2 separate regions of the Homo sapiens genome follow, and region 1 is linked to region 2. A link means that fine-mapping ties the variant in region 2 to the expression of a gene that starts in the linked region. Tissue or cell type: aorta. Region 2 holds a variant in brackets; the other region holds the start of a gene. All regions are shown on one strand. Distances are from middle to middle.

The links. PIP is the estimated chance that this variant, and not a neighbour inherited with it, causes the effect.
Region 1: CPD starts here. The variant in region 2 is fine-mapped to the expression of CPD in aorta (GTEx, PIP above 0.99).

Annotation. Positions count from the first base shown.
Region 1 is chr17:30,377,440-30,380,126 of GRCh38, forward strand. CPD (carboxypeptidase D) reads left to right here and starts at 1,488. Exons shown (of 21, transcript NM_001304.5): 1 at 1,488-2,287. The coding sequence starts at 1,542. RefSeq lists enhancers at 1,074-1,243, 1,389-2,316 and silencers at 1,294-1,533, 1,834-1,963.
Region 2 is chr17:30,427,845-30,430,531 of GRCh38, forward strand. All of the region lies in intron 7 of CPD (carboxypeptidase D), which reads left to right. Among named protein-coding and RNA genes, the nearest start is that of GOSR1, 48 kb to the right of the region's middle. The variant C/T (reference allele first, on the strand shown) is at 1,549.

The DNA.
Region 1 (2,687 bases), 50 kb before region 2:
GTTCTCCATGGCCTTCCAGATCAAATGTGCTCCCTGAAGACTGGCCTGTGAGCCCCTTCACACCAGTAATCCTGACCCTGCATGCAATTCCCAGAACACAAGGCATTTGTTCTCAAATCCTGCGGCTTTCTTTGCTTGCTTCTCCTCCTGCCTGGGATCCTTCCCATCCTCCATGGTTTCTCTCCTCCTTTCCTCCTCCTCAAGTTCAGATATTTCCCTCACCTGTACCCCCTCTGTTGTAGCATTTATCACAAACTACACTGAATCTCTTGACTGGGCAGAAGAATGAATTGTTTCCCAGCATCTAGCTTTGACATAAAAGTTGCTCAATAAATACTTGACGAATGAATGAACTCTATTAAAGTAGGGTTCAGTCATAGTTCAGGGAAGGGGCCCTGAAATAGCTGGCTCTGAAAGAAGGTAATGCCGGTTATTGCGATTATGTTGTTAGATGGGTAGAATTTCGCATTCGATTAAGGGATAGTTTTGGGTTTCTTCAAGCTAAAGAAACTAAAGCCTATAAAAGGTGATTTAAAAGACCTCTTCTCTAGACTTGATGAAACGCTGTAATTGCCATCTTTGGCTGACACTGAGGAGTTCAGGAATGCCAAGCAAGTGTTTCCAGAAATGTCAAACCTGCTGTTTTAAAATATGTCATTCCAGGGCACAGTTAAATATACAACTTGCTCCGATGAGGTGGGAGAAGTGGGCCGGTGAGCTGTGAAATGAAATCTGCCTAATGAGGGTCGAGGCCAGCACACACAGGGACCTATTTGCAGTAAAACAACGTGGGGTGACGCCTAAGAAATAGACAACATTAACACAAAGGGAGCCTACTACGTAGCACATTTCCGCTAGGCATAAAAGAGACACCTTTCCAGAAAGCAACTCTAAAAATGAATGCACCGCCTAGTGAGGTGCGAGCCTTCCTCCCCACGAGGCGTCCCGTGCAACCGCACGCGGACAGCGGGGCTCCAGCGGAGGCGGGGTGGATGCGGAGACAAGGCGCCTAGGAGACTGGGCTAAGGCTTTGAGTGTCCGAACGAAGATTCTTTCGAACCTATTGATTTTTTCTAGTCTTATGATTCTTTCGAACCTTTTGATTCTTTCCATTCTCGGTTCTAAGCATTAAAGCGCAGCTGAGAAAGGCAGCAACAAAGATGGGAAGAGAACTAGCAGGAGTTCTCAGAGAAAAATGGGTGATAATTTAGGGGAGAAGCCATAAAGAAGAGACTAAGCGAGAAGCGGAGCACACGCAGAAGACGAAACAAGGAGGAGGAGAAGAGAAGAAGAACCTTGGCGAAGGAAGAGAGTGACCAAACTCGTCCCGGACGGGAGGAGGGCAGGCCCGCCCAGAGGGAATCGGCTGCTTTAAGGGAAGCCCCGCCCCCTGGTGGTGACGCTCCACCAGGCCCGTCCGCGATTGGCTGCGGCCAGAGGGCGGGATGGGGTTGCTAGGCGAGGAGGGGATCCGGCGGGCCCCCGCCGCCCGGAGCGCTGAGCCGCGGGAGCGGAGCCGGGGTTAGCGGCGCTGCTGGAAGATGGCGAGCGGCCGGGACGAGCGGCCGCCTTGGCGGCTAGGGCGGCTCCTGTTGCTCATGTGCCTGCTGCTGCTGGGGAGCTCGGCCCGGGCGGCTCACATCAAGAAGGCGGAGGCGACTACCACAACTACGAGCGCGGGCGCCGAGGCGGCCGAGGGCCAGTTCGACCGCTACTACCACGAAGAGGAGTTGGAGTCGGCGCTGAGGGAGGCGGCGGCCGCGGGCCTCCCCGGCCTGGCCCGCCTCTTTAGCATCGGCCGCTCGGTGGAAGGCCGGCCGCTGTGGGTGCTTCGCCTCACCGCCGGCCTGGGGTCGCTAATCCCTGAGGGCGACGCGGGGCCTGACGCTGCCGGGCCCGACGCTGCGGGGCCGCTGCTGCCCGGCCGGCCCCAGGTGAAGCTGGTGGGCAACATGCATGGCGACGAGACCGTGTCGCGCCAGGTGTTGATCTACTTGGCCCGCGAGCTGGCGGCCGGCTACCGCCGCGGGGACCCGCGCCTGGTCCGCCTGCTCAACACCACCGACGTGTACCTGCTGCCCAGCCTCAACCCCGATGGCTTCGAGCGTGCCCGCGAGGGCGACTGTGGCTTCGGCGACGGCGGCCCGTCCGGGGCCAGCGGCCGCGACAATAGTCGCGGCCGCGACCTCAACCGAAGCTTTCCCGACCAGTTTAGCACCGGCGAACCCCCCGCCCTGGACGAGGTGCCCGAGGTGCGCGCCCTCATCGAGTGGATCCGCAGGAACAAGTGAGTGTTGCCTGCCCCCTCCCCGTCCGTGTGAGCCTCCAAGGGCCGAGGCTGGTTCCGGCACCCAGTAGGCGCTCAGACAATGCTGGCATAAGGGGTGGCGGTGGTGAAGGTGAAGGGAGACACCCTGTAACGGGGACAGGGCCCAGGCCGCGTAGCCTCCCGTCCTGCTAATCATCAAAGAATTGCCTCCTAGAGGCTGTCATTTGTTCAAGGGATGGCTGGAGGGGACACTCCTTTCTGACATTTCTGGTCCCTATTCTTACAGGGGCATAGAATATGAGCGAGAAGAGATCTTAAGGATAACCTAGGTCAGCTCACACATTTTATAGATAAGCTGTCAATGTTGTTATCTTATATCAAAAGTGCCTAATGTTATAGGCGCTGTGCTAATTTTTTC
Region 2 (2,687 bases):
TCCCTTCTCTTACCTCCTCTCCCCTTTCTTCTCTGTCTTGTCTTTTTTCTCCTCTCCTCTCCTTCTCCCCCGCCTGTCCCCCTACTCTGTTCTTCCTCCTCCTCTCCTCTTCCTCTCATAGTTCTTCAGGTATTTTGTATTTATCTCTCACATTGGGAACTTGGTAACATATTCTTTGTCATTCATAAAAATTGATCCAAATGTTTAGTTCTGTTTTCTCCCTGAAGTTTAATAAACTCTTTTATGTAAATTTAGATTTTGATATTCTCTTTTTTACTTGGTATATCCTTAACTGCAGCAGAGTGACCACATTCTCATGTAGTACCTGAGCTCATATACCTCCATATAATTTAGCAGGATGGATCGGTTGAATAGGATGAGTGTCAAGATTAAAAATCGCCACAATGTCCAACTAAGGTTGCGAATAAGAGTGAAGATATCAGTACCCAAGAGAACCAAACTGTGTCCACACATAAACTCACTTGAACAAAATGTTCACTCATTTAATGTACAGTGCTCATGTATATGAATGTTCAATGTACATGAACGTTCATTCAGGATTATTCACAATAACAAAAAAGTTGAAACAACCCAAACAACCATCATCTGATAAATAGATAAATAAAATGTGGTCTGTCCTTACAATGAATATTATTTGGCTCGAAAAGGAATCAAGTGCTGATACATGCTACAACATAGATCCTTGAAACCTTACACTAAGTGACAAAAGCCAGTCATAATAGACCACATAGTGCATGATTATTATTTTTTTCTTTATCAAGTTGATTATATTTTTATGAAATTTTTAGAATAGGCATATCCATAGAGACAGGAAGTAGATTAAAGATTGTATTGGGCTGGAGTGAATAGTGGTAAGAGGTGATAGGGGAGTGACTGCTAATGGATTTTGGGGTTTCTTTTTGGAGTTATGAAAATGTTCTATAACTGGATAGTGGTAGTGGTTGTACAACCCTGTGAATATAAACAACTTTAAATGGGTGAATTGCATGGTATTTGAATTACATCAGTAAAACTACTAAAAAAAAAAAAGTGACAAGTATTAGCACCAGGGGCAATGGGGAAGAAATTTAGTTTCAACATTTACTGGAATATCCAGAAGTACCATAGTGGAGACTTCATGTCATATAGAGTAGCCTGCCATTTTAGAATGACAGTACATACTGATGGATATTTAGATTTAGGAGGTTAATTGAGATTCTCCAAAAATTGCTTTGAAAGATTGCCAATAGTAGAAAAAAGTACTTCTACAGTTGGTAATCATATATTGTTCTCAAAGAGTCAAATAAGAACTATGAAGTTATACCCTGGTTGGCAAAATAAATTTTTTGTTTTCTTTTATTATATTTTATGTGTTTAATGCTATGTTTGATAAAATTCACTTATTTAGAGCTTTAAAAATAGTCTCATAATAAATCACACATCATGTTGGCTAAATCTGGAAAGTTAATAATAGTTACATTCCAGTGAAAATAAGTCACAGATTTACAGATGTGGTGTCCAGACCTTGGCATGGTGAGAGGTAGGAAT[C/T]TTCAGTCATGCAGACATTTTTCTTTCCATGACATATTTTGTTTTCTCATCTTAAAATCCTTATTTAAATGGAGTTTGAAATCTTGGCAAAGCAGTTTGAAGGAGAATTTCTTTGTTGCTGTACAGGAGTAAAAAATCCTCATAGAGTCCGCAGCTGGAGCTTGTGAATTAAGCTGATAAAAGACAGATTAAAAGAAAAAAGCATACAAATTTTATTTGATGTTTGTATGTGGCACAGGCAACAGGCAGTGGGGGAGTTCATAGGAAAGACGTGAAACCCTCAAAAAAGCAGTGTTAAGGACTTAGTGCTCTTATAACAAAGGGTAATACCTTGTGGAAAAGTGACTACACAAAGGAAGGGGTTTAGACTTCTAGGGGTAAAAAATTGTGGGAAAGTGACTAGGAAATATGCGGGGGAAACTAATGAAAGATGAGGGTTATTTTACTAAGGTTTGTTTGTGTCAACTCATCTTGGTGTTGACTATCCCATCTCTGATGGTACCAGGAAGGTGCCTTTCTCACGGGAAATTTATGCCCTAATTTTAGGCAGAAAGAGGGAGGGTAGATAGCCTTTCCTGCATCTGCTGTTTCTCAGTTGCCTTCAGCTCTAAATAATTAACATGCTAAAGAGTTATATTCTGGGGCAGAATGTTCTGATTCCTTTCCCTGCCATCTTTATAATTTAGAAGGATCTTGAAAGAAGATAGGGGAAAGCAATATTCTTTTTCATAAAATTTCAAAAATTTTGATACTAATTTTTTTATTGAGGTGAAGTTTACATAATTCCAGTGGCGTTTAGTGCATTCATAGTGTTTTGCAACCACCCCCTCTATCTTGTTCCAAAACATTTTTATCTCCGCAAAAGGATACCCCACACCCATTTAACAGTGACTCCCCTTTCCCTTCTCCCCTCAACCTCTGGTAACCACCAATCTTTGTTCTGTCTCTAGGGATTTACCTATTCTGGATATTTCATAGAAATGGAATCCTATAACATGTGACCTTTCGTGTCTGGCTTCTTTCATTTAGCATAGTGTTTTCAAGGTTCACTCATGTTGTGGCATATATCAGTACTTCATTCCTTTCTATGGTTGAATAATAGTACATTGTATATACATATGTATATATCAATATCACAT